Linked DNA regions of Homo sapiens. Changing the gene in region 4 together with the main gene of any one other region gives a genetic interaction. Each region holds a gene or a part of one and is shown on either strand. Other genes may lie near its edges.

Region 1 (6,137 bases), on a different chromosome or scaffold from region 4:
GGGAGTAGCCACTGCCACTTTTCAACTGGACACACAAAGTCTCCAAGGGGGAAGCATGCTTGGTTCCCTGCCTGCGACAGCCAGGGGAACCTGCCGGGCAGGCCCTTTCTCCTTCCCAGGGGCTCTGCTGTCAGCCCCGGCCTGGGAACAGCAGGAAGCAGGACCCGGGGCTCTGAGGCCATCTCTCCCCTCAGCAGCCACGCCTGGGCATGGCCACCACATTCTTCCCAGCCCACAGCACTCCACTTTCTTCCTTAAAAAGAAAAAAATGTTTTTTAAATAAAATAAACAACCCCCCTCCCCCCAAGCAAGAAACCAAACACGAGGTCAGGCCTGAGCAGAGTCCTTGAATGGAAGGCCCCCAAAGTGGCAATTTTAGGGTTTCCTGTCTATTCCCATGGGTCTGGCCGCCAAGGGAACTGGCAGGTTGGAAGAACTTGCCACTGGGGGCAGCTCCTGCCAGGGTGGCAAGCACGGGCGAGCACAGGGGTGGGACAGCCTCCTGGACTGGGTCACCTTGTCTCCAACACTGCTCCCTGATACTGGCAGAGTCTGGAGTGGCAGTGAGCCCAGAGCGTGTCCCTGTCCCCCACCCAGGTCAGCAACCCTGAGATCCGGGGGAACGTGGCTCCCAAGATCTACTCTGGAGCATCAGGAGAACCAAGCGGCCTCAACAGTCCCAGATGGAAGGACGCTAAGGTTCCCAACACCTTTGGGCAAGGGCCTCAGAGTTGCCTTTGCTCTGGCCGTTGGACGGGTGCCTGGGTTCCAAGTGGCCCTCACCACCTGGTCACAAACTTGAAATGTCCAGTTTCCCCAGCTGTAAAATGAGGATGTCAATGAGATGCTGAATCGCCACCGTCACACTGGCCATTTACAAAGCCTGGGTGGACACGGCAGAAGGAGGGCTTCTAATATGCCAGGCTGGCCATGCTGCCCGCCGTGCCCCGCCTGCTGGGCCATGGGAGAGAGCCGCCAGAGCCCCATTTCTCAGTGCCCCACGGCTCACCGACAGTCCATGCTAGAATCACACAGTAACTGGTCTTGCTCAAGCCTCTGCTCCACATTTGCCGTGTCCTCGGAGAGGATGGGGCCTTGGAGGATGGGGCCTGTGGCCAGGGCTGAGCCGAGCAGGGTGGGACTCCTCTGCTCACAGACCAGCTTCAGGCACTGCATTGCTCTACTGCGGGCCCAGTGGGTAGAGCCCGTGGCTTGCCCTGCCAAAGTATCAAGGGCTCCTTGGCACAGAGGTACTTGGTGCCCACCCAGCTTTGGGAAGGAGCAGTCAGTCCCACCTTGGCACCCCTGCAGTTACAGCGGCCTGCACCAGCTCCTACTGCTCCCGGAGCAGGCTCAGCCCAAGACAGTGAGCAGCTGCAGCACTGAGCACTGGGTGACAGGGAAGGAGTGGGTGCTGAGGGAGCACTTCCGGTCCCTTCTGGCACCTCATGGTTCAGAAGAAATGCAAAGTCCAGGCCATCCTCTGTGGCCTGGGCTCTCTTAGGTGTCTCCTGCTCGGGGTCAGAGGCTGTAGCTGTGTGGACAGGAGGGGGTGACAAGTCAGAGACAAACACACTCTTGCTGATGGCAAGGAAGCTGGCTGGGCCACGTGCTCCGAGGCCCACAATGAGTTCGTGGCAAAGAAAATGTCCAAAGGCTCCCTGAGAAACGGCCTCCACTAGAGCACCCTCCATCCCCCCCTTGACCTCTGTGGAAGAGCTGGGTGCAGGGCTCAGAGGACCCTGACTTGTGCCCAGCCTCTGGCCTGGCTGCCCTCCCGTCCCTGACCAGGAGCTGTAGGAGACGAGCAGCCCCCTTCCCTGGAACCCAGGATGGGAGGCAGCCTTGGCTGGCAGCTGGCAGCCAGGGGCCATGCTTCCTGTGCCCCTCATGTGACAGTGATGCTAAAGCTTTGCCACGCCAGGACGGTGCAAGCTGGCATGAAGGCTACAGGCCTGGCAGGTCTGGTGCGGCCACTCTGGGAACCGTCCCCTGGGAGATGAGCGAGCATTCACCAACCAGTGCAGCAGGGCCTGTGGCTGTGGCCGAGGTGCTCCCTGTGGCATTTCCAGGAAACCAGACACCAAGGTGCCAGCAGCAGAAGGAAGTCCCCTGGGGCTTCTTAATGTTTCTCAATGACTCTCCCTGGGGCGAACAAGGACGGGGCCACAGATCAAATAGGAAAGGCCAGCCCAAACCGGCAGGTCCAAGGTAAGCCCTGAGCAGGGGAGAGAAAAAGCCAGCTGGCCCCGCACACACAGCCAGGGTCTGCAGCAGCCTGGGCTCCGGAACGTCGTGTCGGCCACAAAGCAGCTCCCTTGCGGGGATGCTCAGGAAGAGGCACTCTGGCGGCCTTGTCAAATGTCACGGCTTCTTCACAAATATGACATGAGCACCCACACCCTGCAATTTACTGCTGACATGGAGACCGTAATCTGCATTACGCTAGAATGCACCAAGAACAAACTTCCAGAATTCCATGCCCTGTGGTTTCCAGGAGGGGGTTATCCCCCATCCCAAACACGAAATGGCTCTAGAGTCAGAAAATTGCCCCCACCTGGGAACAGAGCTGCCAACATGTTAATACCAGAAAACCCACTTCTGCCAGCATAGACGCGTCCTTTTGCAGTAAACAGCAAAGCAGAGAAGGGATATTACTGTTTTAGAAAAAAGCTGCAGTCAAACACCTCATTTTTAGTATCTCAGTTGCAGCAGAGTAGAAATAACGTGAATATAGCTCCATCCAGCAGTGGAAACTGACCCATGGGGAGCCGGCGGGGAGTAGGGAAGGGGCCCAGGAAGAAGGGGCAGGTGTGAGGGAGGCTGTGCATCCTCAAGGGCTACACTGTGCTTTTGGTTCCCACTGTGTGTTCCGAGGCAAGAGCATACCCTGAAAGCAACAGCCAAGCGCGTGGAGCCCAAACCCACCAGCCTGAGCACTCAGTCCCTCTGCCAAGCCCACCTGGGTGCAACCTAGGCACGGGGAGGAAACACTGGCTGCGGAGCGCTCCTGTACCTGACGTCACCGGGAACTTACTACTAGGAATTGATTGTGCATTAATAGGACACCTCATTCTGGGTTAACAGCCCAGGTTCCCCTGCACAGATTCCAACCTGCATTGCTCACACTCCCTTCAAATCCATTTACCCAGGTAACGGCAGGCGGGCGACTTAATGGCAAATAAGTGAAACGCATGCTCTGGAAAGGAAAACAGACGGGAAAGACATCCCAGAGACCCATTCCTGGGGAACGGCGGTGCTTCAAAGGCCCAGAGGGAGTGACTGCAGGAAAGATCATCTTGTTTGCAGGGAAAGGAGTTGGGAGAACGCTGCCACTGAAGTGGAAAGTTCTGGGTAAGGGACAAAGGCTGGAAGCAGCAGGGTTTCAGCTGGTGCTGCAGGAGTGAAGGAAGGAGGGAGGGAGAGAGCTTCCCGCTGCACCCCTTCCCCCACAAATCGAGGGCAGGAAGTTCTGGCTGCGAAGAGTTAACAGGAACGAGGCAGCGGAGGAACAGGGGCAGGGTCTGGGGAGACAGGGAAGCCAGAAAGGGGCAGGAAGGAGGAAACTCTCGGTGGGGGAGGGACCAGGAAACAGCCAAGAAATCGGGAGGCTGCAAGAGGCACCCAGCTCCGACAATCTGCTGCTGGGGCTGCCACTGTCACCGGGGAGGGCAGAGGAACCTCCTGGGAGCGCCCAGGCAGGGCTCCTCAGCTAGGAGCCCAGAGATTAATTACACGAGGCCTCAGTGGTCATATTAAGCAAATGATGATAATTACAAGACTGCTGGCTGCTGGGAAAGGGAGACAGCAGTTCCTTCAGGGCAAGGCCCAGACCACAGACCCTGAGAGTGAAGGGGCAGCCGCCTCGTTTTACAGAGGTGGAAACTGAGGCAGGTCCAGTCGGGCTAAGGGACTCGCCTGGGTCCCATGTGAGCTGGTGGTAGAGGGAGAAGCCAGACCTCCCATCTTCCAGATACACAATGCTGCCTTACGCTACCTCCTTCTACAAGAAGGTCGGGGAAAGGGACTGTTTCCTTGGATTCTATAGGGTGACAGAAGGGGAGGCCCCTGTGCCAACTCAGTGTGGCACTGTGCCTAACCACTCCCATTCCCTAGCCTTTGGAACTCAGAGCTGTGATGCCAGCCCCAGTTCTTGGCCAAGACACATCCCCAGGCACCAGCCATGGAGGGGCTGCCAAGGTGGGCCACCTCAAGGTATGAACAATTCCCAGTGGCAACCTGTCACTGGGACAAGCCACAGCCCCTCTCCCTGACTCTGACCTTGACCTTGTGGGTATGGGGAAGACAGGCTCCTGCATCTGACGGGACCCTGGAGTGGGGCTGCCCCTCGGTGCAGTAGCTTTGCCACGGCAGCTCAGTTCTCCATCCCAGCCAACGGGAAGAGGGCTGAGCCTTGTGAACTGTGACAGCCGATGGCCCCAGACAAGGGGTGCCAGTCAGCCCACACCGCAAAATGTGGACAGAGGCGAGAACAGTGGTGTGCAGGGGTGGGTGGAGGGGATAAAGCACAGCAAAGAAACAGCACTGGCCTGTGTGGTCCAGAAACCCGAGGCCCCATTCCAGCTTTCTTCTGTGACGAGGACACGACTCCTCCCCTCCCTGAGCCTCAATAACTTCAACTGCTAAAGGGGAGAATCCTAACTGCTGGGCCTGCCTCTCACAGTTGTCAAAAGGACAAAACAGAGTAAAAAGCACTCTGCAAGTGGAAAAGTGTCAGGCAAACATGAAACATGGTCAGGATCACCACTGGGGCGGCGGGGGGCGGGGGGCGGCGTGCTCTGCCCCACTGGGTGTGCAAGGCAAGGCGTTATGCAAAGGGTGGCCTGCTCCCTAATGCCCCAGGCCTGGACCCCCATGTAGGGGTGGCCAGTAGCCCTTCCCAGGCCTTAGCGCACTGACATTCGGCGCTCGCACCTCCAGTCCGTTTCACAGATGTGGGCGATTTGCGGAAGGCCATGCTGCTGATGGTGACCCAATGTGAAAACCTGGGCTGCCTGGCTCGGCCTCCTGCTGTCCTCCTAGAATCCTATCCAACCTTGTTTCTGCTCAGGACTGCATGGGGGTGCCACACAGTCCTGGTATTTCTTGAGCAACTACTACATGCAAGGCATGGCCTTGCCAGCTTCACAGGTTGGTTGCTGGAAGAACTGAGATGACAGATATCAAAATAGGTAAGTCAGTAATAATTCCTATCATTATTGCTATCACCGCCATCACTACCATGGATGGGAAAGGGGACAGGAAAAGAAGACCATCTCGTTTCTCAGGGTTCTGACACCTGCAGAGCCAAGGCGGCGCCCCATCAGAAGCAATGCATTCTGGGGGGAGATTACCCGAACGCAGACAGTTCCAGAAAAGGCCCCGCCTCACAGTTGCAGAACTCCATCCTGCAGGAGGGTCTCGAGGCTGCAGCCACCAAGGAGAGCCGTTTTGAGCCCTAGAGGCTGACTCCCCCGTTTCCTCCCTCGTGGGTTTGTCATTTCTGAACTCATTTCTGTACTAACCGTCACTGCTCCCTGGACAGCCCCCAGCTGACAGTCAGTCTGGTTCCTGTTTTGAGAAATCTGATTGCAAATGTCTTAGAAAAAAAAAGGCCCTAACGGCCTTTTCAAAATGCAGACCAATTTTCCTCTCCCAGGCCTGACGTTCAGTCAATCCAAACACCCAGTGAGCAGGGCATGGCACAGGGGGGCGGTGAGGGCCATGGGCATGGGGCACCCCTGCAGCGTCAGCCAGAGCTTAGACGGCTGCTTCAAAGGCTGAGGGACACCGCAGAGTCACAGCTCTTATTTCACGCCATCCACATTTCACAGATGAGAAGACCGAGGCCCAGTGAGGGAAGAGACTTACCCAGAGTCACAAGATAAGACCACGGCAGTGTGGACAGGCCCCATCCCCAGCCCGCTGGGGCACCAGGAGGAGGCCAACTCTCAGGCATGCACAAGGAGTTGCCACACGACACAAAGAATCGTGGCGGGCACGTCTGCTCCCTGGCACAGGCCAGGGTAGCTGATGAAATGTAGAACCAGAAGTCTGAAGCCCTGATCTGTTGGCCAGGTGCCACCTGGGACTACCTGTGTGACTCGGGGCAGGCCACTCACCTCTGGAGCTTCAGT
Region 2 (6,137 bases), on a different chromosome or scaffold from region 4:
GGTTTCACAGTGTTAGCTAGGATGGTCTCCATCTCCTGACCTTGTGATCCGCCCGCCTCAGCCTCCTAAAGTGCTGGAATTACAGGCGTGAGCCACTGCGCCCAGCCCTGTCTGTCTAATTCTTCAAGTTAATTCATTGCATTGCTCATAGTTGTATAGGCTGTTTTGTTGTTTCCTGTTTCTGAGACAGGGTCTCTCTGTCACCCAGGCTGGAGTGCAGTGGCATGATCTCCGCTCACTGCACTCTCCACCTCCCAGGCTCAAGCAGTCCTCCCACCTCAGGCTCTCAAGCAGCTGGGACTATAGGTGTGTGCCACCAAACCCAGCTAATTTTTGTATTTTTTGTAGAGACAGGCTTTCGCCATGTTGCGCAGGCTGGTCTCAAACTCCTGGGCTCAGGGCAATCCTCCCGCCTTGGCCTCCCAAAGTGCCAGGATCATAGGTGTTAGACACAGCACCTGGCATGGGTGAGCTAGTGTCATGGTTGTCTGGGCCTAAGTCCTATGGTCCTTTGTGTTATTTTTTCTATTTATTCTGTGGCTAGACACACAAAACACTGGTTTATTTGTATGTTTTTCCTTCATTATACTGTCCTTATATTGAGGTTTGGTATTAAGCATTATAAAATGGTGAACTACCTGTGTTTTCTGTGGCATGAAAAGGTTTAAGTAAATCTCATCACAGTCTTAAAAGGTTAGAGAGATGACAGCTAGGAAAACATTTAGCATTTAGGCCTACTGCCTTATCGTATCTGCTTTTGTTTTTAATGCTTTATGAATGTTTTTAAAGTATTGTTCTAAAAGAATATTTTAATAATTGCATAGTATTTTTGTTTTGGGAGAGTTGTTTGGTTTTGGTTTTTGTTCTTTTTGTTTGTGGGGGGCACAGGGTCTAGCGCTGTCACTCAGGCTGGAGTGCACTAGCACGATCACAGCTCAGTACAGCCTCCATGGGCTCAAGCACTCCTCCCGCCTCAGCCCCCCTAGCAGCTGGGACTACAGGCATGCACCACCATGCCCAGTTAATTTAAAAAAAATTTTTTTTTATTTTTTGTAGAAAAGAGGTCTTACTGTGTTGCCCAGGCTGGCCTTGAATTCCTGGGCTCAAGCAGTCCTCCCACCTCAGCCTCCAAAGTATCTGGGACTACAGGCACAGGCCAGTGCACCTGGCCGATAGTGTTTTGACTTACAAGTATACTAGAAATAATTGAATAAATCACCTTCTGGACATTTAGAATTTCCCTTCCCCTGATTTTCCTTTTATTTCTAATTAAAAATGAAATTCTGGGTTATAAGGGCAAGAACATTTGTGAAACTTTACATTGTATACATGTCAGAAAATATCTATCAATATTTAATAATATTCTGGCTGAGTGCTGTGGTTCACTCCTGTAATCCCAGCACTTTGGGAGGACAAGGCGGGTGGATCACGAGGTCAGGAGTTCCATACCAGCCTGGCCAATATGGTGAAACCCTGTCTCTACTGAAAATACAAAAAATAGCTGGGTGTGGTGGTATGAGCCTGTAATCCCAGCTGCTCAGGAGGCTGAGGCAGGAGAATCGCTTGAACCCGGGAAATGGAGGTTGCAGTGAGCAGAGATCACGCCACTGCACTCCAGCCTGGGTGATAGAGTGAGATTTCATCTCAAAAAAAAAAAAAAAAGAATATTCATTTTCTTTTTCTTTCTTTTTGAGACACGCTGGAGTGCAGTGGCAGGATCTTGGCTCACGGCAACCTCCGCCTCCCCAGTTCAAGCAAGTCTCTGCCTCAGCCTCCTGAGTAGCTGGGATTACAGGTGCCCACTGCCACGCCTGGCTAATTTTTTTTGTATTTTTAGTAGAGGCGGAGTTTCACCAAGTTGGCCAGGCTGGTCTTGAACTCCTGACCTCAGGTGATATATCCGCCTTGGCCTCCCAAAGTGCTGGGGTTACAGGTGTGAGCCACTGTGCCCGGCCAGAATATTCATTTTCTTTTACCGTAATAGAGATTGACCTTTTTATTTCCATATTTGTAAAACTTTTTTTGGATAAAATAATACTGTTAATAATTATTTTGTATATATATTGGCCCTCATGTTTTGGTTTATTTTCATATATTTTAATTTTTAGTATTTTAAATTCCATTGTGGAGAAAATGTCAAGCATTGCTAGAGTACAGTTATCATACCTGTGATATTGTGAAATATATATTTAGTCTTCTTCCCCTTCTGTCATATAACTCCTAAAATCTTTGGAATATCCAAGGTCATATCTTTTTGTATACTAATGATTGATAGCTTCAGGGTGGGACTGGTCACTGGAAAGACAGAGACATGATTAGAGGTTGGAACTTTCAGCCCCACCCTCCAATATCTACGGAAAGGAGAGGGGCTAAAGGTCAAGTTGATCACTCATGGCCAATGGTTTAATCAATCATTTCTATGTAATGAAGCCTCCCTAAAACCTTGAAAGGACAGGGTTCAGAGAGCTTCTGGATAGCTGAACACATGGAGGTTCCTGGAGGTTGGGGCACCCAAGGAGAGCATGGCAGCTCCATGTCCCTTCTCCCATACCTCACCCTATGCATGTCTTCTTCTATATCCTTTGAATATCCTTCATAATAAACTGGTAAATGTGTTTTCTTGAGTTCTGTGAGCCACTTCTAGCAAATTAAACCCAAAGAAGGGGTCATGGGAACCCCTACTTAAAGCTGGTGGTCGTAGATCAGAAGATCCAGAGGCCCAACTGGTGTCTGAAGGGTGGTGTGGTTTTGAGGACTGGGCCCTCAACTTCCTGATCTGACGCTCTGCAGGTAGATAGTGTCAGAATTGAATTGGACGGCACCCAGCTATTTTCCACTGCAGAACTGCTTGCTTGCTTGCTTGCTTGCTGGTAGGGAGAAATCCCCTCATATCTGGGGGTAACAGCACTTCTGTCTTCTGTTGCTGTTGAGTGAGGGAATAAGAAAAATCACTTTGAGTTTGTGGGGTGTTTTCCTCACACAAACATATCATACAGGGCTAAATTTCTGGGTGTTTTTTTGTTTGTTTTTTTTTTTGAGACCAAGTCTCGCTCTGTCGCCCAGACTGGAGTGCCATGGGTCGATCTCTGCTCACTGCAACCTCCGCCTCTCAGGTTCCAGCAATTCTCCCGCCTCAGCCTCCCAAGTAGCTGGGACTACAGGCGCCCACCACCACGCCTGGCTAATTTTTTATATTTTTAGTAGAGACGGGGTTTCACCATGTTGGCAAGGCTGGTCTCGAACCCCTGACATCAAGTGATCCACTCACCTCGGCCTCCCAAAGTGCTGGGATTACAGGCATGAGCCACCACGCCCGGCAGAGCTAAATTTCTTACTATCAAATGTCAAATATCCAGTCTGGGTTCAGTTTTCCCCAGTTGTCTCCTAAGTACTTTTACAGTTTATTTGTTAAAATCTGGATCCAAATAAAGTCTATACACTGTAGTTGGTCAATAGGTCTCTTACTCTTCAGATTTCAGTGCTCCATCTGTTTCCCTCTTGCATATTTTTATTTGTTGAAGAGCTCAAGTCATTTGTCCTGCAAAGGTTCCCACAGTCCTGTGGGGTCTTCAGACATTGTCTTCTATCCCCTATATTGCCTTAACCTAACTCTGGAAAGGATGGATTGAATTCCAGTTCTATTTGTTTGGCAAGAATATCACATAGGTGATTTTGTCTACTTTGATCAGGAAGTATAATGTGCCAGGCAGCCATTGGTGATTGCTGCCCAGATTTTTTACTTCATTTCACCAGGGTTTCAGAAAGATGATACTGCAGTTTTTACATTCTTTCCTCATTAATTAGCTAGAATATATCTATAAAGAGAAACTTACACTCATCAAACACTGTGGTTACCCTTGGGAAAGGCAGGATGAATATTGGATCTCTTTATTTGCCAGTTTCCAAATAATGCCCTACCAAGCATCTTCCAAAGTTGAAAGCAAGACTTATAGTTGTTTTTCAATAATAATCAGGAATTCATGGGTTAAAACATTTAATGTGTTTCTGTGTATTACAAGTATTATCCTTTTACTCAAATTATCCCCTTTTTAACAGCTGGCTTCCTCTTCTCATTGAATAAAGCTAAGACGTAGGCCGGGCGCGGTGGCTCACACCTGTAATCCCAGCACTTTGGGAGGCCAAGGCAGGCAGATCACCTGAGGCCAGGAGTTCAAGACCATCTGGCCAACATGGTGAAACCCCGTCTCTACTAAAAATACAAAAATTAGCTGGGCGTGGTGGCGCACACCTATAGTCTCAGCTGCTCTGGAGGCTGCGGCAGAATCGCTTGAACCTGGGAGGCAGAGGTTACAGTGAGCCAAGATCACTGTACTCCAGCCTGCACTCCACTCCTGTACTCCACTGCACTCCAGCCTGAGCGACAGAGCGAGACTCTGTCTTTTTAAAAAAAAAAAAAAAAAAAAGTTAAGACATACTTTTTCTAAACTTAATCCTAGTTTTAACCCCCCTTGTTTCTTTCTCTTTTTCTGGAGATAGTTTCAGTCTGTCACCCAGGCTGGAGTGCAGTGGCACCATCACCACTTGCTGTAGCCTCGACCTCCCCAGGCTCAGGTGATCCTCCCACTTCAGCCTCCCAAGTAGCTGGGACTACAGGCACACACCACCATGCCCAGCTTGTGTGTGTGTGTGTGTGTGTGTGTGTGTGTGTGTGTGTGTGTGTGTGGACAGGGTCTTGCTCTTTGATCTGGTCTGGAACTCCTGGGCTCAAGCGATTCACCTGCCTTGCCCAGGCTGGTCTGGAACTCCTGGGCTCAAGTGAGTAACCCACCTTGGCCTCCCAAAGTGCTGGGATTACAGGCATGAGCCAAACCACCTGCACCCCCTTTTTTTTTTTTTTTTTTTAAGGAAGGAAGGAAAACTTAGTTTCAGAGCAATTCGGTTAGACACTGGAATAATAGGAGACCTAGTCAATAACCCACATCTGTTTTTGTTCACTCCAGATTCAATAAAATAAAATAAAAACTTCTTACTAAATGTAGGCATTAACATTTTAGTCTCCTCGAGACATGCTCCAAGTGAATGTTTTCGGAAGTTCCATTCAGAACCCTTGTCTCATTCTCTACCTTTGATTTGTTACAGACTCTTCATCAGTCTTTATCCCTGGCATCTTCCCCCAAAGGAACCATTGAGAACATTTTGGACAATGACCCAAGGGACCTTATAGGAGACTTCTCCAAGGTAATTGCAAGCAGAGCTGCTCTGGCAAGTGTAGGAGGGAGTGTGGGTATTTAGAATCCCACTCAGCCTGTCTCCCTCCCCAGGGTGGTTCCTGGCATACCTCCAAAAGGACACAGTTAAAAGAATGTTAAAGGTAGGGAAGCAAACTTAGTTTCTCATGATCAGGTATATGTTGGTTTCTGAGACTGTAGATATCACTATAGCTGATGGGCAGTTTTAGGTAGGGAGCTGTCCACCAACCACCTTGATTGTAACCCAAAGACTAGGCTCTCTGGGAACTGTGTTATTATAAAAATAGTAATTAGCAGGATAGTGTACAGCAGAAATAAATCTGTAGCCACACTACAAGTCTGCATGTTGAAAGGTTATCTTAGAAGGTCTGGGATTGAGACTGAATTTCTCCGTTCAGAGAAGCTTGGCCATTGAGGGAAAAGACCCTCCAGGAAGTCTAGAGGAAGATCTTCTAATAGCCTGATATACTACATGAAGGCTTGGCTGCAGTAAAATACAAGGCTAGGACAGGGAATGTGTCAATAGCAGCTTCTTTAATCACATTTTGACTTGAAGGTTACCAGATCAATGTTTTATTCATTAATTTAGTTAACATTTATTGAAGCACTTATGTGTTAGGCAGAGATTCCAAAATGAGATACAGTTCCTTCCCTCAAAGAATTTAGCATGTGGTTGGAGAGGTGAGACGTGAACTACATGTACCACATGGTAGACTGAAATAAATTTTAGTGAGGTGTAAACATAAACAGCATGCCGTGAGAAGTAAAAGGGTTTATCTTGGCTAGGGGGTTGGGGAACGTCTGGGGTTGGGCCGTTGATATTTCAGCCCAAATGGGTTTTGAAGGAACGGAGAATGAAGAGAACAAGCAAAGATCCAGCTGTATCCTCAGTTTTGGAACCTTCTCTTGTTTGGCAGGGAGAGATGT
Region 3 (6,137 bases), on a different chromosome or scaffold from region 4:
CCTCGTTCTGTTCTGGCTACATTGGGTGGAGAGGTGGGGAGGTAGGAAGTGGCCAGTATAGAACTTATGAATATGGGCAACAAACCATAGTAATATCAGCAGCACCTATGATGAGCATATGGGTGGGGAGGAAGCAAGGAGATGAAGGGTCCCTAGCCAAGTTCCCTGAGTAAAAAGAAAGGTGTAGATTTTATTATATTACCTAGACTCAGAGTTCCTCTTGTGATAGGAATTTACCCAGGCCAAGCTTACATATAAACTTCCTACTATCATTTTCTTAAGACTGTTGACTCAAATTTTGACCTTAGTCCTTGGGGGCAATTTGAATTAATCATCTGAGTAAGATAAGAGCCAGCAAAATCATGGGGACGAGGCACTGGGGGAAGACATACTGTGTGTTCACTTTTGGTGTACAAACTGACCCTCTTGCTACCATGTTCCTTTCTTTACAGCGGATGAGAACATCCCAGCGAAGATCCTTTCTTATAACCGTGCCAATCGAGCTGTTGCAATTCTTTGTAACCATCAGAGGGCACCACCAAAAACTTTTGAGAAGTCTATGATGAACTTGCAAACTAAGGTATCTTGGATAAAATGAAGGGAACTGTGTCTGCTGTGGGCAGATTATCTGCGAATGAGAGGATTCAGGGCTGAGATATCAGCAGGCCAGTGCTGGGTCTGTTGTAGAAGGTCTATGCTAAAGATAAACAAATGGAAATATGATAGTAGTTAATCTCTGATCAAGATACTGAATATCAGAGTATCCATTATTCAAGAAATCTTTATTCTACGCATAGAAGTTCTATACTGGCCACTCCCTATTTTGAAAAACTAACTTTGGTGTACATTCTAATTGCTAATTACTGTCCTTATTGTACATGAGGAAAGTGGATTTAAAGAGAGTCTTCATAATTCCTTGCTACAGCCCAGAAATACAGCCATTTCCAAATTAGATTGTTTCAAATTGAAAAGATGATGAAACAATTATATATTTAAAGTCTTTCAAATCCTAGCATAGCTATTTTTATTTTTACGCATTCCACATGAATCATATTTTTATATAGTTCATCATCAAACATCTGTTGAATACTGGCCGTGTGCCAGACAACTTGCTGCCCTAAAGGGAAAGACTGGTGTGCAAATAGGTGCTATTCCTTGTCCCTGAGCCTCTTTCCTCCTCCTAACTCCGCCTGGTACTGAGCTTTTAAACCATAAGGCACTTAACATTTGATGATGAACATTTTTGTGTTAGCAGTGACTTCATAACTAATTCATCCTAACATGGTGGTCCACAGTGAGAATTTGCAGATATTTCATTATAGAACAGATACACAGGGTTAAAAAGGAAACAAATTATATTGAAATACAGTTATCAAAATACATTTTAAAGTCCGATAATAGATGTGCTTCCTTATTAAGGTCTTGAGGTGGCCTGTAGTAAATTTCAAGGTAGTAATTAATTAATATCAATGATACTTTAAGATTTCTGCAGCAATTCAAATATGAAATGAAGATGTCTAACATCTATTGATGATAAAGTCATAAGTGCTGCTGCTATTACTATGGTTTGTTCCCCATATTCATAACTGAAGAAGAAATACTAAATTTCAGCTAGAAGCTGGGTGCAGTGGCTCACACCTGTAATCTCAGCATTTTGGGAGGTTGAGGTGGGAGAATCACTTGAGCTGAGTAATTCAAGACCAACCTGGGCAACATAGTGAGACCCTGTCTGTATTAAAAATTTAAAAATAAATATAAATAAGTTCCAAAAAGAGGTTATTGAAATTATAGATTTTTTCTCATCCAAGTTCATGGAATTCTATACTTGTACAACTGGAGTTTAAGAACTACTACTGTGGAATGAGACTGCATTTTAAGGCCCAGAATATTTTCCATTTGTTGAGATTTCCTTAAGATAAGTACCCATGAGTAATATAGCTGGTTCAAAAGGTACACACAACTTATAATTTATGCTACAGATGCCATCTGGCTTTCTTGAAGAGACGTACATGTCCACAGTGAATGAGTATACATCCATAGACCTTTGATTCCTTGGATCATATGATTGGCAGGCAAAGAACTCTATAGACGGCCCATCCTAGCAGCTCACATTTGCTGCCACTCTGTTAAATGCTGGTCATCTGGAATTGTTTATTCTCCTCATGTTATCATTACAAGCCAGAAATAAAAGCATGAATATTCAGGTGCTGTTTACCTAATTCAGGAAAACCCCTCCCAGGAGCATGAGGAGGTCTTTTGTTGCTCTCGCTCTGGAACCGGGTTTGGGCAGCCCAGGCTGCCTGCCAGATGAGCCCTCCAAACCCAGGATTCCTCTCCTGTGTGCCCACAAAGCAAACACACGCCCCTGTTTGCCAAGTGAATCAATGGAGTCTTTGATGCTTTGAGAGAATTTGACATAGCCTGCCAATTTAGCATTCACAGAAATGGTTAAAAGATCATGGTTTGCTACATTTCTATCCTAAAAAGAATCTGGCTAGTGGTGTCTGTGATGCTTTTGTATATAGAATCAGTCCCCTCAGTTTGGCTTTGGACAACATAGATGTTGGAAGTAAGCCATTCATAGTAAAACATATTTAGTGATCCTCTCACAATGGTGGCCTCTGTTTCCAATCTTGGGCTGTGTGTATCTAACAACAAACAATTCCAGGTTCAGTGAGCAGCCCAGTGTGTGTCAGACATGTTATTTACTCCGTAGAGGTTGTCTTCACCTCACATAGATGACCATAGGTATGGGGTTCTCCTGCCCTCTGAGTAGCGTGAGCTCAGTGACAGGGGCTCTAGCTCCATGTTGTTATCCACTGCTGTCTCTAAGCAGGAATCTGAGAAGAACTTAGATTCACCAGGGGTGCTTCAAAGATTCTAACAAGCAAGAAAGGCTGAAACTGCCCTTGTCTCTTCCCTTATAGATATGGATTCCATGAGAGTTCACATGGGGAAAAAAGCTCCACAGCTAAAAGTGTTTTCACATCCATTGAGTGACAACTAAGGTCCTTCCCACCTCAGACTTCTCTCCTTTTTTTTTGAGACGGAGTCTCGCTCTGTTGCCCAGGCTGGAGTGCAGGGGCATGATCTCGGCTCACTGCAAGCTCTGCCTCCCGGGTTCATGCCATTCTACTGCCTCAGCCTCCCGAGTAGCTGGGACTACAGGCACCCACCACCACGCCTGGCTAATTTTTTGTATTTTTAGTAGAGACGGGGTTTCACCGTGTTAGCCAGGATGGTCTTGATCTCCTGACCTTGTGATCCGCCCTCCTCAGCCTCCCCAAAGTGCTGGGATTACAGGCGTGAGACACCGCGCCTGGTGACCGCTCTCCTTTTAAAAACAGAATGCCAAAGCTAAGCCCTGCCATGTCCTGGTTTGGGACAGACTGGCTGAGCTGTTTGGCTTCCTGGGTGTCTTTTAATTGCCAGTTTGTAGCCCCTTGAGTACTCTCTTCAGTGCATCCATTTTCCTTGAGAAGCTGGCACCGCCTTCCCAGAGTACTGGTGGGATCTGAGGAACGAGCTGGGGTTGCCCAGTAGATGCAAGTATCCTGCTTCAGTTTCCTAAAGAGGAGCTCCTACAGTGTTCTTAGAATGAAAGCTAAGAACTGGCACAGGATCTATTTGATAAACAGCTGTCATTTGTAGCCATCCTCCCAGATGTATGACAGCAGAGTGTTCTCTGATGGAAAGATCAGCACCCAGATTCCCAGCCCCAGCGGGTTCCTTTCCCTGAGCCCCTAGGTTACTGCCCTGTAAAACCCTTGTTTCTTTCCAGATCACTGAAGAACAAATAGTTGAATTCACTAGTCCTTGTGCATCTTCTCCCTGCCTTCATGAAGCCACCCTTGTTTTTTTTTATCTGACAAACCACTGACAGAGACAGCCTGGTCCAGATAACATCTTGGTTTCACCTTCTCAGGTGGAGCCATTTTTCCTCTACAGCTCATAACCTTACCACTATTATTTCCCCTAGATTGATGCCAAGAAGGAACAGCTAGCAGATGCCCGGAGAGACCTGAAAAGTGCTAAGGCTGATGCCAAGGTCATGAAGGATGCAAAGACGAAGAAGTATGTACCTGGTATTGTGAAAGTTGGGGCTGGTAGAGAAAAGTGTGCAGCATCTGTCAGGGCCCCTGGGGCCCTGGCTTTTCGATGGTTTCTGAGAAATGTCTTTTGGAAATCTCTATACTAGGGCTTTTATTGACTCAAAGTGGCAGGATGGGTACAGTGTGCTCTTGTCTAGAGCCCAGGCCTGGTTCTTGAGGACTTTGCTATTCTTCTAGGGTAGTAGAGTCAAAGAAGAAGGCTGTTCAGAGACTGGAGGAACAGTTGATGAAGCTGGAAGTTCAAGCCACAGACCGAGAGGAAAATAAACAGATTGCCCTGGGAACCTCCAAACTCAATTATCTGGACCCTAGGATCACAGTGGCTTGGTAAGTGTTGAGCCCTCCTTGAGCTCCTGCTGCTAGCTTAAGAAAGGTGGAGGGGGTTCCGAGAGCACTGGTGGCCTTCACATGCCATTCCTAAGCTACACACTTTAGTCCTCTGGGGAAACTTCTGGCTTCAGCTGTGTACAAGTTACTCTGGTTGCTGAACCTTGTCTGTAAATGCATTGCAACATTCTGGTTGCTCCTAAATGGTCAGTGCTGTTACACTGCCTTGTAGTGTATATTTTTAAGAGGCAGGTGCCATCCCTATTCCTAATGGAACTTTAGGACAGGAATGGAAACTCTTAGCTTCTGGAAGAATAGGAAAGAGCCCATCCATCTCTACACTTCAACAAAACTTTTCGTTGAATTTTTTTGCAGTTGAAGGTAGGAACAAGAGATAAAGATGAGAATACAGATCTGAGCAACTTACACAGAGAGGCAGAGGGACCTTTAACAAAAGCAGATAAATACTAGGTTTCTCTGTGTGTCACACACAGTGTCACATAACATCTGAAACAAGTGGCTTTGTTATGGAAGATGTTTAGTTTGAGCTGTTAAGTTCTGAGCATAGGTGGAGATATCCTCCCCTATGGCACTTGCTAGTCCGGGCTAAAGTTTCCATCTAGGTCTTTTGTACCTCTTTCTGCTCGTTTTGCCTTGTTTGGTGCTAGAGATTTGGTTAGCTCTTAAAAGGCAATATAGTATAGTGGTTAAGAACATGGAGAAAAACTGCTTGGGTTCAAATTTCAGGTCACTTACCAGCTAGCTGTGTGAGAAAATCAGTAAATTACCTAACGTCTCTGCCTCAGTTTCATCTGTACGTTTTTCACTTGTACATCTGCAGAAGCACCTACTTTAGAGATCACTGCCAAGATTAAATGAGTTGATCACATAAAACCTTTAGAACATGCTTGGTGCACTATTAATTTGCATCCTCACTAGACAGATGTGAAAGAGAAGATGGAACATCTGACCCTGGGCCTCAGATATGGGCCATTGCTGAGTCACCCTAATCCCCCCCTTATTTCTCCTTTGTTTGCAGGTGCAAGAAGTGGGGTGTCCCAATTGAGAAGATTTACAACAAAACCCAGCGGGAGAAGTTTGCCTGGGCCATTGACATGGCTGATGAAGACTATGAGTTTTAGCCAGTCTCAAGAGGCAGAGTTCTGTGAAGAGGAACAGTGTGGTTTGGGAAAGATGGATAAACTGAGCCTCACTTGCCCTCGTGCCTGGGGGAGAGAGGCAGCAAGTCTTAACAAACCAACATCTTTGCGAAAAGATAAACCTGGAGATATTATAAGGGAGAGCTGAGCCAGTTGTCCTATGGACAACTTATTTAAAAATATTTCAGATATCAAAATTCTAGCTGTATGATTTGTTTTGAATTTTGTTTTTATTTTCAAGAGGGCAAGTGGATGGGAATTTGTCAGCGTTCTACCAGGCAAATTCACTGTTTCACTGAAATGTTTGGATTCTCTTAGCTACTGTATGCAAAGTCCGATTATATTGGTGCGTTTTTACAGTTAGGGTTTTGCAATAACTTCTATATTTTAATAGAAATAAATTCCTAAACTCCCTTCCCTCTCTCCCATTTCAGGAATTTAAAATTAAGTAGAACAAAAAACCCAGCGCACCTGTTAGAGTCGTCACTCTCTATTGTCATGGGGATCAATTTTCATTAAACTTGAAGCAGTCGTGGCT
Region 4 (6,137 bases):
TGGAGCACTTGCGAGAGGTGAGGGCAGTTACCAGTGCCAATATCCAGGAGTTTGCTGGCTGCAAGAAGATCTTTGGGAGCCTGGCATTTCTGCCGGAGAGCTTTGATGGGTAAGAGTGGGCACGATGACCTGAGACAGTGTCAGGGCAGACAGAGTCCTGAGGATCCAGATGTGGCAGCATCTCTTGGGGATGGCAGGAGACAGAAGTGGGGGGATCAAGAATGCAAAGAAAGCAGATGGGAGACCAGAGGAGCAGGGCCTTTGGTGGGTGGGGGTGATTATTTTTGTAAATGACATGCTATCCGTGAACAAGGACTTGTATGGAGGTCAGACCATCTAGATAAAGTAAAATTCCCTTTGAGTTCATAGCAGCTTTATTCAAAATATCCCCAAATTGGAAATAACTCAAATGTGCATCACTAGGTGAAGGAATAAACAAGTGGCAGTGTATCCATTTGGTGAAGTTCTACTTAGCAACCAAAGGAAATGAACTACCGATACAACATAAATGAATCTCAGAAACATTACATTGAGCAAAAGAAGCCAGAGACAAGATTCCATACTGTCTGATCCCCTTTATGTGAGGCTCTGAACCGAAAAAACCACTCTGTGGTGGGAGAGATCAGAACGGTGGTTGCCCCAGGGTGGGGGGCTTCAAAAGGGAGGCACACAAGGACATTTCTGGGGTAATAGAAATGCTCTGTATAGTGATTGGGGTAGTGGATACATGAGCGAATCCATTTGTCAAAACTCATCAAACTGTGTGATAAGAGTCTGTGCATTTTATTTATTTCATTTTATTTTTTGAGATAGAGTCTCACTCTGTCAGCAGGCTGGAGTGCAGTGGTACGATCTTGGCTCACTGCAACCTCTGCCTCCTGGATTCAAGCAATTCTCCTGCCTCAGTCTCCTGAGTAGCTGGGACTACAGGTGTGTGCCACCATGCCCAGCTAATTTTTGTATTTTTAATAGAGATGGGGTTTCACCATGTTGGCAAGGATGGTCTCGATCTCTTGACGTCGTGATCCGCCCACCTCAGCCTCCCAAAGTGCTGGGATTACAGGCATGAGCCACCACACCCGGTGCATTTTATTGTATATAAGTTATACTTCAATAAGAAATGAATTGGGGCCAGGCACGGTGGCTCACGCCTGTAATCCCAGCACTTTGGGAGGCCGAGGCAGGCAGATCACTTGAGGTCAGGAGTTCAAGACCAGCCTGGCCAACATGGTGAAACCCCATCTCTACTAAAAAATATAAAAAATTAGCCAGGCTTCCTGGCATGCGCCTATCATCCCAGCTACTTGGGAGGCTGAGGCAGGAGAATTGCATGAACTCGGGAGGTGGAGGTTGTAGTGAGCTGAGATTTCGCTATTGCACTCCAGCCTGGGCGACAGAGTGAGACCCTGTCTCAAAAAGAAAAAAAAAAAAAAGGGTCAGGCGCCGTGGTGCACACCTGTAATCCCAGCACTTTGGGAGGCTGAAGCAGGAAGATTGCTTGAGCCCAGGAATTCAAGAACAGCGTGGGCAACATAGTGAGATCCCATCTCTACAAAAAAACACAAAAAATTAGCCGGGCATGGTGGTACGCACCTGTAGTCTCAGCTACTAGGGAGACTGAGGTGGGAGAATCACCTGAGCCTGGGAGGTGGAGGTTGCAGTGGGTTGAAATCATGTCACTGTACTCCAGCCTGGGTGACAGAATGAGACCCTGTCTCAAAAAAAAAAAAAAAAAAAAAATTCCCTTTCACACTTCCTTTACCTCCACTCCCCTTTCCAGAGGGGGCCATGGTTAACAGTGTGTGTGTTCACCTAGACCGTTTATGCATCTGTAGACACACACACAGTGAAGTGTGGTTTTCGTCGTTTTGGTGGGGAGGTTGGTTTCTGTAAATGGGAACATATAGGGAGCACTGTCTGCACCTTGCTTTGAGAGCCGGTCATGACAGTTCCCATTGAACTGCCTTGTTCTTTCAATAGCTGCAGAGCAGGTGGCGGCAAGGAGAGGCAGCTAAGAGCCCAGACTTGGGAGCCAGACTGCCTGGGTTTGAAACCCGGCTCTACCACTTACTAGGCATGTGACCCTTGTGCTGTGCCTCAGTTTCTTCATCTGTAAAGTGGGGGCAAGAACAGTCCCAACTTCATAAGATGGTTATACCACCATGCCTGGCCAGATGATTATAAAGTTTGAATGAGTTAATATTTGTAAAGCTCTTAGAACAGTGCCTGGCAGATACTAGGTGCTCCTAAATGTTGGTTTTTATTATGTGGCTGGGTGGCTCGGGGTTTTATTTAACAGCTCCCCTATTTACTAATAGACATTTAGATCATGTTCCATTTTCACTCTTACAAACAGTTCCACTTTGTGTGTGGCTCTGGGAACATGGGCCAGTGTCTCCCTAGGCCACATTCCTAGAAATAAGATTTCTTTTCTTTTTTTTTTTTTTTTGAGACAGAGTCTCGCTTTATCGCCAGGCTGGTGTGCAGTAGTGTGATCTCGGCTCACTGCAACCTCTGCCTCCCGGGTTCAAGTGATTCTCCTGCCTCAGCCTCTCGAGTAACTGGGACTATAGGCGCGCGGCACCACACCCAGCTAATTTTTGTATTTGTAGTAGAGATGGGGTTTCACCATGTTGGCCAGGATGGTCTCCATCTCTTGACTTCGTGATCCGCCCGCCTCGGCCTCCCAAAGTGCTGGGATTACAGGCGTGAGCCACTGAGCCCAGGCAGAAATAAGATTTCTAGATCAAAGGATATAAATACTGTTTTGATAGATGTTGCCGAACTAAGGCCTGGGCTTTGAAGCCCAGGATGGGAACAGCTGGGCTCGATGGGCAAAGGGTTTGAGTGAAGGCATTCATGGTGGGGAGTGGCTGGCATGGCCAGTGCTGGGAGTGATGTCCACCCTGTTCCTGGCCCTGCTGACTCCTCTCCTGACCCCTCCAGGGACCCAGCCTCCAACACTGCCCCGCTCCAGCCAGAGCAGCTCCAAGTGTTTGAGACTCTGGAAGAGATCACAGGTGGGCTCTGTCTCTGCATCCTGTTCTGCAGGGGCTGGGAGTCCTTGTCCTGTCCCCACTCCTTTAATCTCACCCTCTGCCTGCAGGTTACCTATACATCTCAGCATGGCCGGACAGCCTGCCTGACCTCAGCGTCTTCCAGAACCTGCAAGTAATCCGGGGACGAATTCTGCACAAGTGAGCACTGAGAAAGAGGGGGCCTGATGGGGAGGAGTCCCAGGGAGGAGTCCCTGTGGGAAGCTTTGGGCCTGAGGGAGTACTCCTGTAGCAGTAACCTTTCCATGAAAGTCTGCAGAGTGTGCTGGGGATGGAGGAAGATGAGAATAGCCTTTGCTGACCGGGAAGGGGTCCGTGGTAAGGTGCCCACCTTTCTCCCATAGTGGCGCCTACTCGCTGACCCTGCAAGGGCTGGGCATCAGCTGGCTGGGGCTGCGCTCACTGAGGGAACTGGGCAGTGGACTGGCCCTCATCCACCATAACACCCACCTCTGCTTCGTGCACACGGTGCCCTGGGACCAGCTCTTTCGGAACCCGCACCAAGCTCTGCTCCACACTGCCAACCGGCCAGAGGACGAGTGTGGTAAGACAGGGAGCCCAGTGTGCGCACTCCCCATCTGCCAGCACACAGCAGTGCCCAGGGGGCCCTGGCAGCAGCGTTCTTGGACTTGTGCAGACTGCCCGTCTCTGTGCACCCTTCTTGACTCAGCACAGCTCTGGCTGGCTTGGCCTCTTGGCATGGCTTCTCTAGCTGGGTCCTACCTGCCTTGGCATCCTTCCCTCCCCCTCTGTTTCTGAAATCTCAGAACTCTTCCTCTCCCTACATCGGCCCCACCTGTCCCCACCCCTCCAGCCCACAGCCATGCCCACAGCCAGTTCCCTGGTTCACTTGGACCTGGGGCCTCCCCTAAAAGTCCCCTGCGGTCCCTTCCTCCTCACTGCAGTGGGCGAGGGCCTGGCCTGCCACCAGCTGTGCGCCCGAGGGCACTGCTGGGGTCCAGGGCCCACCCAGTGTGTCAACTGCAGCCAGTTCCTTCGGGGCCAGGAGTGCGTGGAGGAATGCCGAGTACTGCAGGGGTATGAGGGGCGGAGGAGAGGGTGGCTGGAGGGGTGCATGGGGCTCCTCTCAGACCCCCTCACCACTGTCCCTTCTCTCAGGCTCCCCAGGGAGTATGTGAATGCCAGGCACTGTTTGCCGTGCCACCCTGAGTGTCAGCCCCAGAATGGCTCAGTGACCTGTTTTGGACCGGTGAGCTGCTGGCGGGCTCAGAGCTGGGTGGAGGGGGGCAGCGAGGGGGATTGCCAGGGACTTGGCAGGATGGCGAGATGCAGTAGGGTGTGCTATCTGGTAAAATATCCCTGGAGAGGGCTCAGCGCTCAGACCTGAACAGCAACAGAGTGGCAGAAAAGGGGCCTGGGGGACACTGGGGCCCTTCAGACTATGAAAAGGTTCTAAGGAGGTCTGTGTTGGTGGCTGTGACTGTGGCTGTGCTAGGGTGGTGAGCCCTGTGGGCTCAGGCGTCAGACTACCTGGATTCAGACCCAGCTCCTGCTTCCAACCTTGGTTTTTTATTCCTAAAATGGGTATTGTAATAATACCTACCTTGCTGGGGTGTGGCAAGAATGAAATTAAACAGGGCTTGGCACAGTGAAGCACGGGAAAGGCTTTCTACAGAGCAGTGACTGTTGTTACTCGCTGTTACACCTTAGGTAATGCGTTTTCCTCTCTGGGTGCCTCCCATTTTCTGGCTCAAGTCCCTGCCCAGGATCAAGCTTGGAGGAGGGCCCCGAGGGAGGGGCCACAGAGACTGGGTGAAGAGCAAGGGTGTTTGTCCCAGGAGCATGGCGAAAATTGCTGCTGGGTGGCCTTGGGAAGCACAAAGGGGACCCAACTAAGGGCCTGATCCTACTGCCCTGGGGGTGTCAGTGCCAGCCCCCCACAAATCTTTTCTGCCCCCCCCAGGAGGCTGACCAGTGTGTGGCCTGTGCCCACTATAAGGACCCTCCCTTCTGCGTGGCCCGCTGCCCCAGCGGTGTGAAACCTGACCTCTCCTACATGCCCATCTGGAAGTTTCCAGATGAGGAGGGCGCATGCCAGCCTTGCCCCATCAACTGCACCCACTCGTGAGTCCAACGGTCTTTTCTGCAGAAAGGAGGACTTTCCTTTCAGGGGTCTTTCTGGGGCTCTTACTATAAAAGGGGACCAACTCTCCCTTTGTCATATCTTGTTTCTGATGACAAAAATAACACATTGTTAAAATTGTAAAATTAAAACATGAAATATAAATTAATGCCCTAGCAGTTCTATCCCCACTGTTAATAATTTGAAATATTTTTCCTCTAGTTATTTTTGTCTGTGCACATTCTAATATGTATATATAAGTTAACATATATTAATATTATTCTCCAGTTATTTTTATCTGTGCACATTTTAACACACACACACACACACACACACACACACATATGTATTTTTAGACGGAGTTTCACTCTGTCGCCCAGGCTGGAGTGCAGTAGTACAATCTTGGCTCACTGCAGCCTCCACCTCCTGGGTTTAAGCAATTCTCCTGCTTCCGCCTCCTGAGTAGCTGGGATTACGGGAACGTGCTACCTTGCCTGGCTAATTTTTGTATTTTTAGTACATAGGATTTCACCATGTTGGCCAGGCTGGTCTCGAACCCCTGACCTCAGGTGATCTGCCAGCCTCGGTCCCCCAAAGTGTTGGGATTACAGCGGTGAGCCACCATGCCCAGTCATATATTTCTTTTTAACAAATAGAATCATAGATCATACATATTGTTTGCAAATTGCTTTTTCTCACTTTCCAGAACCTTGAAATGTTTTTCCATGTTCTAACATGGTGATCTACCTTATTCTTTTAATTTTTCTTATTTAGTTGTCTTTACACATGAAACACATGAATACATCCTTGTGATAAACATTTTCAGTAACATAAAAGTATAAATGTTACAAAGCCAACGTGCCCTTTCACTCAACTCCCTGTCCACCCAGTCTCTCCTGTCTGCTGGGAGAACCACCGCATTGACTTGTGTGTTCACCCTTCCAGGCTCTTTTCTGCACACTTATATAGACATACTACATTTATATTAGGTCGAGTCA
Region 5 (6,137 bases), on a different chromosome or scaffold from region 4:
AGAAAAGACAGAGGAACACTCTAGGACAGAGCTGGGAGAGCATGCCCTGGGTGGCAAGGGGGCACCAAACCTTTTGGAACCAAAAAAAATAGCAGAAAGCTGCGAGGAAGTGAATCATAGTAGCTCCAGGCCCCTGTGAGTGAGGTCAGATCAGTTTTGATTCCGGCACTGCTGGCAACATAGGAGGCGCTGTCACTGCTGGGCTCTGGACCCTGTGGCCTGGCCCCCTGGAACATCTTCCCCGGGATCAGGGGTCCTTGGACAGGCTGTTGTAAGGCTCGTCTGGAAGCCACAGCCCAGGTCTGGGCACCTGCCTGGTGCCCTCAGCTGGGAGGCCTCTCTGGCAGAGGCGGCGGCGTGGGATGTCGTCCAGTGTCCACAGCAGCCTGAGGCGAGGCGTCCCCTTGCCCCGGCTCTGCAGCGCCATGGGCTCGGGGCCTGTCTGGCTTGCTCGCTCACCTGCCTTGTTCTGTTTGTTTTGGCTGCTCTGCCTTGCCCTGCCCTGCCCTGCCCTGGCTGGCTAGCTGCCCCGCTCCGCACTGGGAATGGCAGCTCGGTGCCTGAAGGACGGAGCTCCCGGGACAGAACAGCCCCCTCTGCAGGCATGCAGCCCCAGCCTTCTCTCTGCTCCTCAGCCAGTAAGTGTGAGGGAGGCACATTCTGGCTTCCGTCTCCCTGGCTCGTCCTGAAGCCCCTCAGGGACCCCCACCACAGCTGTCAGTCCCACCCACCTGCCCGTGGTAGTAAGCTCTGGGAGCATGGCCTCTGCTGGGGGTGGGGGGTAGACTGGAGGTGCTGTTGAGACCAGGCAGGGGCCCCTGAGTCTGGGGCCCAAAGAAATATGAGAAGTGTGGGTGGAAAAACATGGCCTGGGATGAGGGGAGTAGAAAGCCCCCAGGATGTGCAGTGGGCCTTGCCTCAGCGCTGAGCCAGGAAGAAGGGCAGAGTCGGAAGTCAGGTCTGTGGGGGTGGGAGTGGGATGATGGGGAAATCGTGACAGCGAGGAACTGTGTTGGGGATGTAGTGCTTCCTGAGTCTCAGCATAACAGTATTAAGAGCATGGGGTCAGAGGCAAGATAGATCTGAGTTTAAATCCCAGCTACACTGCCTTCAAGAGTGTGAAGTTTAACCTCCCAGAGCTGCAGGTTCCTTATCTGTAATGTGGAAATAAAATGGCACGCACCTCAGAGCCTTGTTAGATAAAAGACAAGGCAGTAGGAAGTCTTGATACGGTGCCTCGATGGGTTATCAGTAGCTCATCCTCATATTTCTAGTTACGTCTGTGCTGGAGGATGCCTTTGTCTGCTGCTTTTCCTCCCACCATCTATCCTTGCAGAGTTTCTAAGCACAACCCTCTTCGCCCGTGGGGCCCCAGTCAGGTCATCCAGATGGGTCTGGTGGGGTTGGAGAGGGTGTGTGTGTTGTGGGTGCACACCTGCCTGCTGCTTTTGGAAGCCGATCGAACTCCTTGCTTCCCTTAACCTGCTGCTTGCTCACCTGGAGCTGTGGCCTAGCGGGGCTGACGGCTGTGGGGCCCCCTCCTGGATGTGCCTTTGGCTGCGCTGCCCTGTCCCAACTGTGCTGCTTGGCTGTGCTGGCCCGGCTGGGCCGTGGTGGTGCTGTTCTAACGCTTGCAGTTGTCTTGCAGCCTTTTGCTCCTGTGAGGAAAGGGTTGTGGCCTGGCCCCGCCCAGGGCTCGGGTTAGGATGAGCCCAAGCTCAACCCAAGCTCTCCCTTACCCTGGTGGCAGCCCCTGCTGGTAGTGGCATTCCCTATAAGAGAAGCCCATGCCGGCAGGACATCACCAGCTGTCCCTTGGCTTTGGATGGGTTGGGGAGGAGGCCTCTGGAGGGCACCACCTCTGCCTGCCTGTCAGTCTGAGCCCTGTCTGGTTTTCCTGAGGAACACGTCCTGGCAATGAGAGCTGGTGTGAAATGTGCAGCTTTCCCAAGCCTCGAGAGGTAAATGGAGCAGCCTCTCTGGTACAGGCTGTCCCAAGTTTTTACAGTTCTGGGATCATTTCTCCCAGAAAAGCCCTGTGGAGTTGAGCAGTGGGAAGCATCCATCCTAGGGTTCTGATGGTCCTTTGGCACCCCAGCCCTAGCTGGATTCTGCTGTCAGGCTACCTGTCACCCAGGGCTGGGTCCTGGCCACTGAATGAGGGCTACGAGTGGGGGTGGTGATTGAGACCTGACTGAGCCCCTTCAGGTGAGAGAAGTAAATTGGGGGTGGAAGCGGCCTTATTGGGAGATGCTTGTGAGAGAGGCTGCTCATACAGGGGAGGGGCTCACAGCATTCACGATGTACCAGGCTCCTCACCTGTTAAAGGCAAGCGTGTTTTCTGCAACCTGGTTGTTGATGGAAAGGGAGGCAAAGGCCAAAGAACCATAACTAATGGCTGGGCTTCAGGAGAAAGTGGTCATTGTCTCTGCAGACTGCAGAGAGGGAGACGGGAGGGAAGGTGTGTTCGCTCTTCCTGCCAAGGGCCCTAGAGACAGAGAAGAGGGATGTCTTTGTCATAAGCGATCACAGGGGACTCCTGAGGACTGGGGAGGGCTCTCTGTAACTTGGGAGGTTCCCCAGTAGGTAAATTGATGGATTTTTCTCCCCCACAGTGCGAAAACAGGAGATCATTAAGATTACAGAACAGCTGATTGAAGCCATCAACAATGGGGACTTTGAGGCCTACACGTAAGTAGAGACCCATTTTTTTTTGTGACCTAAGTCATCTCCCAAGGCCTTCCCTGCTTCCAGACAACAATTAGGACCCTGGGGAAAGGGAGGTTGGACCTTGGGCAAAGTATCTGAGTTAAGCCCTCTCCTAAACTGGGAGCCCTTCCAGGTAGATTCCCTGAGCTCACCCATGGTATCCTGGCAGTGGGCCGAAAGCACAGGGCTGAGTGGCTCAGCAGGCAGGCCTGGAAGATCTTTGCTGTCTTGTCTGGCATGGCCACAGGTAGCCTGCTGCTACTGGATAGACACCGCTGATAAGGAAGGAAGACAAGTCACTCCATAGAAGCCTGATAGGCTGCTTTTTTTTTTCTCCCTGTAGGAAGATTTGTGATCCAGGCCTCACTTCCTTTGAGCCTGAGGCCCTTGGTAACCTCGTGGAGGGGATGGATTTCCATAAGTTTTACTTTGAGAATCGTGAGTGGGTTCGTGCTGCTGATATACTCCTGCCTGCCCCTTTACCCCTTTGTCTCTGTCTCCTGCTCACCTTCTCATCCCAGTTGCCCACTTTTCCCTTATTTGACCTTCGTGCTGCACTCCTACTCTGTATGCTTGTCCCCTTGTGCCCCGATGGTTGTAGACAGGCACCTTTGAAGGCCCTGCTCCTGAGCTCCAAGTGCCATTCATTCTGCAGCTGCTTTGTGGCAGTGCCAGTCACCACAATCAAGCTCACTTATTTCTTGCCGGGCGCGGTGGCTTACGCCTGTAATCCCAACACTTTGGGAGGCTGAGGCTGGCGGATCACGAGGTCAGGAGATCGAGGCCATCCTGGCTAACACGGTGAAACCCCATCTCTACTAAAAATACAAAAAATTAGCCGGGCGTGGTGGCGGTGCCTGTAGTCCCAGCTACTCGGGTGGCTGAGGCAGGAGAATGATGTGAACCTGGGAGGCAGAGCTTGCAGTGAGCCAAGATCAGGCCACTGCACTCCAGCCTGGGCAACAGAGCAAGACTCCATCTCAAAAAAAAAGAAAAAATTATTTAAGCCTCACCTCTTTCCAAGACGGATTGGAAGGAAACCCTTTGAGATTAGGTTGAGATGATCTCAGCACATAAGAACTAAGCTCTGTGTCTGCAGGTTTCACAATAGAGGAAATTAAAACCAGGATAAGAATGTGCAAACCAGGGCACTGTTGGTGATTTGCGAGATCGGAAGTTGTGGCTAGAATCTTCCTGACTATGGAGGAAGGCAGACGTCTTGTATAGGGGGTGGGGTGTACATTCTGGACAGTTCATGGAAAATAAGGGGATAAGAAGCTGAATCATCACCCCCTCCCATCTTTCTCTCTGCTCTATGAGACCCTCCCCTTCCTTATTTTTATCTCTTCCCACTTTATGCTGGGCCTTCCCTATCCTGCCCTGAGTTATAGTTAGTCACTAACTTCTCCGCTGGCTCCCACCCTTATCACATCTCAGCTACATATATAAACTCTCTGTTATCTAAGTAATTCTATTAGCCAGAAGCAATTCCAGAGTTTATATTAGTACTAGGAAGGTGTCATGTAGCCCCTGTCTAACATTTGAATTGAACTAAAATGTGAATCTCAATAAAAGCAACACAGTTTTCACAGCATATGCTGATAATGGCAATCCAACTTCTTTTGCCTTTTCCCCAGAGAATCCTGGGAATATCCTGAGCTTGGTGCTTTGATGATTCTATTTCAGCTTTGGTGCCTTAAAAAAAATTACAAATCAATTTTGAATGGTTTAAGTTCATGATTTTGTTCTGCAGCCCTAGCTAGGGGTGAGCCAAGCCTTATGAAATCTAAACTCAGCCTAACAGAATAGAAAATCTATAGGCTTTAGTTAAGAGTCACATGGTCCTGAGTTCAGGTGTGTGATTTGAGCAAATTATTCCTTGAGCCTATTTCCTCATCTTATAATGAAGAAAATATTATCCACCAAGAAATACAGCTCGGGCATGTAAAACCCCAGCACAATGCCTGATTAAAAGCGCAGCAGGTACTGTCACTGTTACCCATCTTTCTGTTCCTTTTGGATAAAGGAGACTAATGTAATGTGGCATCCTGGCCTCTGGAGGGCGTTCAGGGGTTCGGGGGTGGGGGGGGGCGGTACTTGGAGATTCTGGGAGTGGTTGCTTGGGAGATGGTAAGACTTGGAAGTGCAGGCTGGGAGGAAAATGCAGGTGCCCAGGCCTGATGTCCTCTTACCTACCCCACCCTGCCCTGCAGTCCTGTCCAAGAACAGCAAGCCTATCCATACCACCATCCTAAACCCACACGTCCACGTGATTGGGGAGGACGCAGCGTGCATCGCCTACATCCGCCTCACCCAGTACATCGACGGGCAGGGTCGGCCTCGCACCAGCCAGTCAGAAGAGACCCGGGTCTGGCACCGTCGGGATGGCAAGTGGCTCAATGTCCACTATCACTGCTCAGGGGCCCCTGCCGCACCGCTGCAGTGAGCTCAGCCACAGGTGCACCTGGTTGACGGGGGAGAGGGGCTGGAAGGGCCTGGGATAGGTGGGGTCAGAGGAAGAAGAGAAGGCTGGGAGGTGGTCCTGGGAGAGGAGGTGTGGGCCGTCCCAGAGGACTGGCAAAGCCTGGCAGAATGGTTGCAATAAGTTATGCTTGGAAATCAGACAGACTAGGGTCTGGCTCCGTGACTCCAAATTGGATGACCTCAGACAGGTTACTTCCCCTCCCTAAACTGTTTCCTTAGCTGTCAAAGAAAGGCAGAGAGTGGTGCCTACCTCATTTAATCATTGTGAGGATTAAGTAAGATACTATAAGTAAAGCACTTAGTTAGTGCTTAGCAAATGGGAGGCAGTTTTGTATTTAAGCATTAGCTTCACCCACTTTCCCCACCTTCTCAGGCCGACTTGGCCATGTGTTTAGCGTGCTAAAGTCGCTGGAACTCATCTGTGTGCTCATTGTCCTCTGTTCTGTTACCACATTCTGTCCTGTTTGACAGGGGCTTTAGGAGATTCCAGCCGGAGGTCCAACCTTCGCAGCCAGTGGCTCTGGAGGGCCTGAGTGACAGCGGCAGTCCTGTTTGTTTGAGGTTTAAAACAATTCAATTACAAAAGCGGCAGCAGCCAATGCACGCCCCTGCATGCAGCCCTCCCGCCCGCCCTTCGTGTCTGTCTCTGCTGTACCGAGGTGTTTTTTACATTTAAGAAAAAAAAAAAAGAAAAAAAGATTGTTTAAAAAAAAAAGGAATCCATACCATGATGCGTTTTAAAACCACCGACAGCCCTTGGGTTGGCAAGAAGGCAGGAGTATGTATGAGGTCCATCCTGGCATGAGCAGTGGCTCACCCACCGGCCTTGAAGAGGTGAGCTTGGCCTCTCTGGTCCCCATGGACTTAGGGGGACCAGGCAAGAACTCTGACAGAGCTTTGGGGGCCGTGATGTGATTGCAGCTCCTGAGGTGGCCTGCTTACCC

The links.
Region 1: changes in ERBB2 (region 4) and GRK2 together harm fitness less than expected from each alone (positive genetic interaction), as found in Homo sapiens cells (one large-scale study listed by BioGRID).
Region 2: changes in ERBB2 (region 4) and CDC25A together harm fitness more than expected from each alone (negative genetic interaction), as found in Homo sapiens cells (one large-scale study listed by BioGRID).
Region 3: changes in ERBB2 (region 4) and TOP1 together harm fitness more than expected from each alone (negative genetic interaction), as found in Homo sapiens cells (one large-scale study listed by BioGRID).
Region 5: changes in ERBB2 (region 4) and CAMK2G together harm fitness more than expected from each alone (negative genetic interaction), as found in Homo sapiens cells (one large-scale study listed by BioGRID).

Annotation. Positions count from the first base shown.
Region 1 is NC_000011.10:67,267,834-67,273,970, reverse strand, and holds part of GRK2 (beta-adrenergic receptor kinase 1), read right to left. Parts: coding exon of another isoform or gene 6,123-6,137; intron 1-6,122. UniProt on the Homo sapiens protein: Specifically phosphorylates the agonist-occupied form of the beta-adrenergic and closely related receptors, probably inducing a desensitization of them. Key regulator of LPAR1 signaling.
Region 2 is NC_000003.12:48,166,908-48,173,044, reverse strand, and holds part of CDC25A (M-phase inducer phosphatase 1), read left to right. Parts: intron 1-5,100; coding exon 5,101-5,199; intron 5,200-6,137. UniProt on the Homo sapiens protein: Tyrosine protein phosphatase which functions as a dosage-dependent inducer of mitotic progression. Directly dephosphorylates CDK1 and stimulates its kinase activity. Also dephosphorylates CDK2 in complex with cyclin-E, in vitro.
Region 3 is NC_000020.11:41,117,717-41,123,853, forward strand, and holds part of TOP1 (DNA topoisomerase 1), read left to right. Parts: intron 1-452; coding exon 453-580; intron 581-3,979; coding exon 3,980-4,074; intron 4,075-4,289; coding exon 4,290-4,439; intron 4,440-5,478; coding exon 5,479-5,581; 3' UTR 5,582-6,137. UniProt on the Homo sapiens protein: Releases the supercoiling and torsional tension of DNA introduced during the DNA replication and transcription by transiently cleaving and rejoining one strand of the DNA duplex.
Region 4 is NC_000017.11:39,712,340-39,718,476, forward strand, and holds part of ERBB2 (receptor tyrosine-protein kinase erbB-2 isoform a precursor), read left to right. Parts: coding exon 1-109; intron 110-813; coding exon of another isoform or gene 814-930; intron 931-2,946; coding exon 2,947-3,020; intron 3,021-3,106; coding exon 3,107-3,197; intron 3,198-3,379; coding exon of another isoform or gene 3,380-3,400; coding exon 3,401-3,600; intron 3,601-3,931; coding exon of another isoform or gene 3,932-3,961; coding exon 3,962-4,094; intron 4,095-4,175; coding exon 4,176-4,266; intron 4,267-4,727; coding exon of another isoform or gene 4,728-4,829; intron 4,830-4,980; coding exon 4,981-5,141; coding exon of another isoform or gene 5,142-5,145; exon of another isoform or gene 5,146-5,318; intron 5,319-6,137. UniProt on the Homo sapiens protein: Protein tyrosine kinase that is part of several cell surface receptor complexes, but that apparently needs a coreceptor for ligand binding. Essential component of a neuregulin-receptor complex, although neuregulins do not interact with it alone.
Region 5 is NC_000010.11:73,814,033-73,820,169, reverse strand, and holds part of CAMK2G (calcium/calmodulin-dependent protein kinase type II subunit gamma), read left to right. Parts: intron 1-524; coding exon 525-638; intron 639-1,274; exon of another isoform or gene 1,275-1,902; coding exon of another isoform or gene 1,903-1,961; intron 1,962-2,615; coding exon 2,616-2,691; intron 2,692-3,052; coding exon 3,053-3,147; coding exon of another isoform or gene 3,148-3,461; exon of another isoform or gene 3,462-4,303; intron 4,304-4,922; coding exon 4,923-5,155; 3' UTR 5,156-5,167; intron 5,168-5,664; coding exon of another isoform or gene 5,665-5,726; 3' UTR 5,727-6,137.